Homo sapiens: one gene and its partner. Changing the gene in region 1 together with any one later gene gives a genetic interaction. Each region holds a gene or a part of one and is shown in the gene's direction. Other genes may lie near its edges. The genes, in order: EIF2AK3 and NF1.

Evidence for each region.
Region 2: changes in EIF2AK3 (region 1) and NF1 together harm fitness more than expected from each alone (negative genetic interaction), as found in Homo sapiens cells (one large-scale study listed by BioGRID).

What each region holds. Positions count from the first base shown.
Region 1 is NC_000002.12:88,571,965-88,575,464, reverse strand, and holds part of EIF2AK3 (eukaryotic translation initiation factor 2-alpha kinase 3 isoform 1 precursor), read left to right. Parts: exon of another isoform or gene 1-18; coding exon 19-799; exon of another isoform or gene 800-951; intron 952-3,500. UniProt on the Homo sapiens protein: Metabolic-stress sensing protein kinase that phosphorylates the alpha subunit of eukaryotic translation initiation factor 2 (EIF2S1/eIF-2-alpha) in response to various stress, such as unfolded protein response (UPR).
Region 2 is NC_000017.11:31,227,477-31,230,976, forward strand, and holds part of NF1 (neurofibromin), read left to right. Parts: intron 1-46; coding exon 47-130; intron 131-1,548; coding exon 1,549-1,989; intron 1,990-2,358; coding exon 2,359-2,498; intron 2,499-2,783; coding exon 2,784-2,906; intron 2,907-3,365; coding exon 3,366-3,449; intron 3,450-3,500. UniProt on the Homo sapiens protein: Stimulates the GTPase activity of Ras. NF1 shows greater affinity for Ras GAP, but lower specific activity. May be a regulator of Ras activity.

The sequences.
Region 1 (3,500 bases):
TATTTCTCCCACTTTTAGCACAGACTGGCCACTCAGCTCTCCTAGCCCAATGGATGCACCATCAGTTAAAATACGCAGAATGGATCCTTTCGCTACAAAAGAACATATTGAAATCATAGCTCCTTCACCACAAAGAAGCAGGTCTTTTTCAGTAGGGATTTCCTGTGACCAGACAAGTTCATCTGAGAGCCAGTTCTCACCACTGGAATTCTCAGGAATGGACCATGAGGACATCAGTGAGTCAGTGGATGCAGCATACAACCTCCAGGACAGTTGCCTTACAGACTGTGATGTGGAAGATGGGACTATGGATGGCAATGATGAGGGGCACTCCTTTGAACTTTGTCCTTCTGAAGCTTCTCCTTATGTAAGGTCAAGGGAGAGAACCTCCTCTTCAATAGTATTTGAAGATTCTGGCTGTGATAATGCTTCCAGTAAAGAAGAGCCGAAAACTAATCGATTGCATATTGGCAACCATTGTGCTAATAAACTAACTGCTTTCAAGCCCACCAGTAGCAAATCTTCTTCTGAAGCTACATTGTCTATTTCTCCTCCAAGACCAACCACTTTAAGTTTAGATCTCACTAAAAACACCACAGAAAAACTCCAGCCCAGTTCACCAAAGGTGTATCTTTACATTCAAATGCAGCTGTGCAGAAAAGAAAACCTCAAAGACTGGATGAATGGACGATGTACCATAGAGGAGAGAGAGAGGAGCGTGTGTCTGCACATCTTCCTGCAGATCGCAGAGGCAGTGGAGTTTCTTCACAGTAAAGGACTGATGCACAGGGACCTCAAGGTCTGTATTTGTGGAGCATCACCCTTGGGGTTTCAATCTGACGTTTTGTGATTCAGAGCAGTACTTGCAGTACTCTGAAGGATCCTTAAGAGTTGGGGAGAGTAAAAGCATCTGAGAGCAGAGGTCTGAGAAAGTAGCCTCGAAGGGGCCTGCTGCAAGAATAAGAAGTCTTATGTCTGAAAACTTTAGGCAAACCATGCATTCATTGTCTTCAGTAATGTGTTTGTGTTCATTTTACTGTAAAAGGTATTCTCAGTAGTCCAGGTGAGGGAAAAAAAAGAAAAAAGAATCTTTAGGTAAAATCCACCATGAGCAGATATAGCCTGTTTTTTTGTTTGTTTGTTTGTTTTTGTTTTTCTATGGTTTTGAGTAACCCTGACACCAATACCTCCAGGGCTCTGAAGCAGCATGGTGAAAGGGATCCGAATGGAAGGAGAGACATGGGTTCCTTCATTAGCCAGCTTGAATTGGGGCAAATCTCCACACTTTTGCTTCTTTTTCTGAACTGTTTAGACTTTGGGGGAAGGGGTAAGAAGCCGAATGGGGAAAGGTAGCAAATAGTTAACAGATGACTGTTTACAGCTCTAAAACCTTGGATTCTATTTTCAATATATTCAGTAGTGAATTTTGCAGTAATATAATATGCAAAATTATTAAAGAGTCTTACTAAAACATGACATTTCCGTAGTAGTGTTTCTAAAAATAAGTACATGGAACTTTTATTTAACTAATTTCCCACATTCCATATACTCTTAGCCATCACCAGTAGATGTGGAGTGAATGTATAAATACTTTTCTGATGAAAGTAGCTTAAAGTCTTGATAGATGTGGATCCATTTTAAGTCTTTTCAGACTTAAAACAGACTTGTTTCAGGCACAAAAGTAGCTATTTGGACACAAGTTATTTTCTTCTAAAATCAGCAGTAGGTTTTCAAATTCTTGGGTATATTTTAAGAGTTTTAGGGTAACAAGAATAGGAATTAGAAATAATTCTTATTTTTTAATATAATTGTTATTTAGTCATATAAATCATTATGCTTCAGTGATTTTGACGTGGGCCCAAACTGATTGCCAAGAATTGTTCTGCACTGAATGAAAAGTTCAGAGATGAATTATTTGGTTGGATTGGAGAAGACAGTTTACAGGAGACCACACACCCCTAATTTGAGAGAATACTAGCAGTTAGGTTTGAATATAGTAAACGCTTATCACTAGGTGGGAAACAGCTAGCTGAAATACACATTCTTCTTGTACTTAACACTTGCTGTACACACAAATGCCAACTTGAAAGACAATGAATCATGTTTTCACTAATAATGAATATTCTTCTGCTAATTTTATAATGTAAATGAGATATTGGTAAATATCCATTTAATGCTACAATGTTGTCTAAAGATTTTTCTGTAATTGTCTATGCACCAGAAAAATTGCAAGAAGAAAGTTAATATTCCTGTTAGTTTTTCTAGAAATCAGAAAGTTTTATTCCTTTCTAAATAGAAGACAATTCCTTTTAAAGATTTCTAGTGCGCCACCCCCAACCAAAAAAAAAAAAAAAGCCAAGATTTTTGTTCCTGGGTGAAAAAGCTGTACATTTTGCTACGTTCTGACCTAAATCTTTGAGCTCAATGTTAAACCTTCTAGGCCCTCTCCCCCTGTTATATTTTGGTCACATTTTTGTCTTCAGGACTTTGGCTCCTGCCTCTTCAGACTAACTTCTAGTCTTCTATTTTCTCCACTCTGAACTTTTCTCAGTTCCTCTTGATATACACTGTTCTGACAGAAACCTGGTCCTTCTTCATTATTCTCATCACACCTGGATTATTTATTCTGTGGTTTCTATGGGGTATGAACCATATCTGTTTCTTTTACCTGTTATAGTCTCAGTACAATGCCTGAATGTTCTAGATGGTCATACCATTTATTTTGAATTTTATTTTCTTTGCACTCAAAAGTGTTTATACTGACTTAACCAGAAAAGGAAATCTGTTGGCCCACATGGCTAAACTGTTGAGAATTCAGGTAAAGCTTTAGCTGAGATCAAGTGATTTAGCCAGAACCTGGTTTCTGTCCTCCCCATTTCTTGTTTCTATTTAAGTCTTTTGGAGTTGGTGGGGTAGAGGGTGGAGAGAAAAGTATTGCTTTTTCCCACTATCAGAAATTTTATTCTACTTAAACCAAGGACACCTACCCATCCCTCAACAATCCCTAGCCAGGCAATGGGATTCCATGGATTGGCGTAAGCAACTTTTAGAGCATGGATGCCTTCCACACTAACCGTGGGGTTTTGCTGCACAGTCAGCAAGAAGGAAGTTCCCAAAGTAAAGTCAAGATACTTCTGCTGGAAGCACAGGGAGATAGATACTGGAGAGCCAAAAAGCTTGTCTATTATAGGGTTCAGTAAATAACAACTGCCATCAGATGTTGGGAGTTGGGAAGAAAGATGACATTTAATGCAGGATAGTCTATTATTGCCTCTGGTACAAAGTTATTTATTGGAGAGCTGCAGATTATTACCATAGATCTTATACACAATAACTTCATGCTTCCAAGTCAAAATCGTTTAATGGTATTTTAGAGTTTGGGAATGCAATGTTATTTTCTGGCAGTATTTGAAACATGATGAAATTCAATTTCATGAGCTAAATGGCTTCCTTTTTCCTCATTTCAAGGGCTATGAATGGTGGTCATATTACCCGCAGAG
Region 2 (3,500 bases), on another chromosome or scaffold:
AGCTCTAGACTAAGTTGCTTTCAAGTGATAATTGCCTTCATTTTAGGCTTGGGAAGATACACATGCAAAATGGGAACAAGCAACAAAGCTAATCCTTAACTATCCAAAAGCCAAAATGGAAGATGGCCAGGTAAGTCTGTAAAGTTGACTTTTGTCTGTTAACTGATCTGCTAAATATATGTACTTCACTTTGATAATCTTTCAAGAGTCGCTCAGTAAAGTAAACATATAGCTGTGTGAAGACTGATATTTAGTTGTGGTTTATCTAGACCTGTACTTTGTAATGTGGTAGCTACTAGCTATGTGTGACTATTTAACTTAAATTTTAACATAATTAAAATTAAATAAAATTTAGTTCCTCAATCATATAGTAACCACATCGCAAGTACCAGTAGCCACATATGACAATTACTTACTCTATTGGACAGCAGAGAGAGAAAATGTTCCTGTCATCACAGAAATACTGGGCAGCACTGCTAGAGACTGTTTGTTGCAGAGACCATTTCTTTACCTTTTCTTGCTCTTTCTCCCTTCATCAGGGTGTTTCACAGAATTTTCAGAAAAGGAGCAACAGAGGTAGAGATAAATTAACATGGAAACAATTCATTTTGCTATTTTGTTAGGTATTCTAATTAAGGAATGTCTTAGGCAGTAGATTGATCCCATAGAGTAAATGAAATTTTAAAATGTGGACAGTTCATTCAACTATTACTATTGACTATATTATCTGTTACTTTGGAAATTAATGATCAGTTAGTGTTTGTGTGTATTTGATTTGTAATGTTCATATTGCTCTCATTATTAGGTGATTTATAAAAACTGGTTGTTCCTCCATGGTGTTTTTGTCATGCTTAATTACAATAGGAAAAAGTTATATTTTTACGAAGCAAATGTGTGTACCTAATACCTTTATTTGGAGGGGACATGTAGCTTTAGAATGAAAGCTTTTGGGGGGATAACTGTTTTATATAATTACATACCATACAGTTCACCCATTTAAAGTGTCCAATTCAGTGACTGTTTTTAATGTATTCACAGAGTTGTGCAACCATCACCACAATCAAGTTTTAGAACAATTTCATCAATTGAGAAAAAAACCCCGTACCCTTTAGCTATCTCTGCCTCTAACCACCCCCCACCCACTTTCTTGCCTCTCTTCCCCCAACGTCTCTAGCCCTAGGCAACCATGAATCTACTTTCTGTCTTTGTAGATTTGCCTATTCCGGATATATTCTGTAAATGGAATTATAGAATATGTGGGCTTTTGTGATTAGCTTCTTTCACTTAGCATGATGTTTCCAAGGTTCATCCATGTGAAATCAAAACTTTTTAAAAGAAATTTGACACTCGGCTGATTATATTAGTGTATGATAAAAATAGATCAGTGGCTCTTTAAAAATGTATATGGTAATTTTATGGGTTGATTTTAATGTATATTTTACATTTTTTGTACTTTTGTCATGGAAGAAATGTTGGATAAAGCATAATTTGTCAAGTCTCAACTAATTAAGGTTTAATTCATGCTTTGCACAAAAATTTTGTGTTTAGGCTGCTGAAAGCCTTCACAAGACCATTGTTAAGAGGCGAATGTCCCATGTGAGTGGAGGAGGATCCATAGATTTGTCTGACACAGACTCCCTACAGGAATGGATCAACATGACTGGCTTCCTTTGTGCCCTTGGGGGAGTGTGCCTCCAGCAGAGAAGCAATTCTGGCCTGGCAACCTATAGCCCACCCATGGGTCCAGTCAGTGAACGTAAGGGTTCTATGATTTCAGTGATGTCTTCAGAGGGAAACGCAGATACACCTGTCAGCAAATTTATGGATCGGCTGTTGTCCTTAATGGTGTGTAACCATGAGAAAGTGGGACTTCAAATACGGACCAATGTTAAGGATCTGGTGGGTCTAGAATTGAGTCCTGCTCTGTATCCAATGCTATTTAACAAATTGAAGAATACCATCAGCAAGTTTTTTGACTCCCAAGGACAGGTAAAGTGTTCTCTTATTTTTCACCTTTCTCTATGAATAGAGTGACTTGTTTGAAATAAGCCTTTTTCTTTCAGATTATTTAAATTAGGTACTCACAGTTTTTAAAAATTTCCAAAAAATTGCAGAAAGAAGAGTCATCTCAATGTAGGGGTCAGCTTGCCTCTTAGGAACTCTGGTGTGTATGTGTGCCTAAGGGTATACGTGCCCTGTGTATGGGTACGAGTGTCTGCGTATATCTGTATGCTTATTTGGCTCTATGCCTGTGGGTGCACTTACTCTGTGTGTTTAGATCAGTCAGTTTCATCTCTCTAGGGGGTCTGTCTTCTGGGCATTGATGGCAAATCATTAATGTATTTGTTCTTTCTTTAGGTTTTATTGACTGATACCAATACTCAATTTGTAGAACAAACCATAGCTATAATGAAGAACTTGCTAGATAATCATACTGAAGGCAGCTCTGAACATCTAGGGCAAGCTAGCATTGAAACAATGATGTTAAATCTGGTCAGGTAAGCATTCTACTGAAATGTAGCAGAAACATTTTAAGAGATAAGAAAAACCTCTTACACACTGATACTGGTAGTAATTGATAAAATAACTGGCCATTCTTTACTGCACACAAACTAGGGTGTGACAGTAAGGTAGCCAGAAGTTGTGTACGTTCTTTTCTAAATAAATATCTTATTGTTTTCAAACTTACATTTAATTCGTTTTACTTGATGACTAAAGTATTTAGAATGCCTTCTCTTTTGTCTATATCTGATAATTTTTTTATTGTTTCTATGTCTATATAGGTATGTTCGTGTGCTTGGGAATATGGTCCATGCAATTCAAATAAAAACGAAACTGTGTCAATTAGTTGAAGTAATGATGGCAAGGAGAGATGACCTCTCATTTTGCCAAGAGATGAAATTTAGGTGAGTTCTCAAAAGAGCAATGTAGGGTCTTGTAAATCTTAATATGTCCAATGAAGTACAGAAAAAGAGTAGATATGCGGTTATTGGTAGAAAGGAGGACATGAAAAGAGAGCAATTTACATGTTTGTTTTTCTCTACATCTCTTCTCAAATTTCCCTAAGCTTTGTGCCTGTGACAATGCTCCCTTTTTCTAAAACTGTGCTATACTTGAGCTAAGAATTTGATTCTATTTCCAATCTGATACCATAACTAAGGGCCATGATGGAGGATAAATATCCATGTTGCTTGTTCCCTTCTGGCTTTTATGTCTGTGATAGCAGTATCTCTTTTATAAAGTCGTCATGTCACTTAGGTTATCTGGCAAATTATTTGCACTATAAGAAATCTTACGTGACTAAAGGTGTGTGTGTGGCTTCAAAAACATTGTTTGCTGTTTCTCTTTTCTCCACCATTCTATAGGAATAAGATGGTAGAATACCTGACAGACTGGGTTATGGGAACATCAAACCAAGCAGCAGATGATGATGTAAAATGTCTTACAAGGTAAAAAAAGAATGACCTTCAAGTATTAGTGGGTTTTACTGTGAGAGTTAT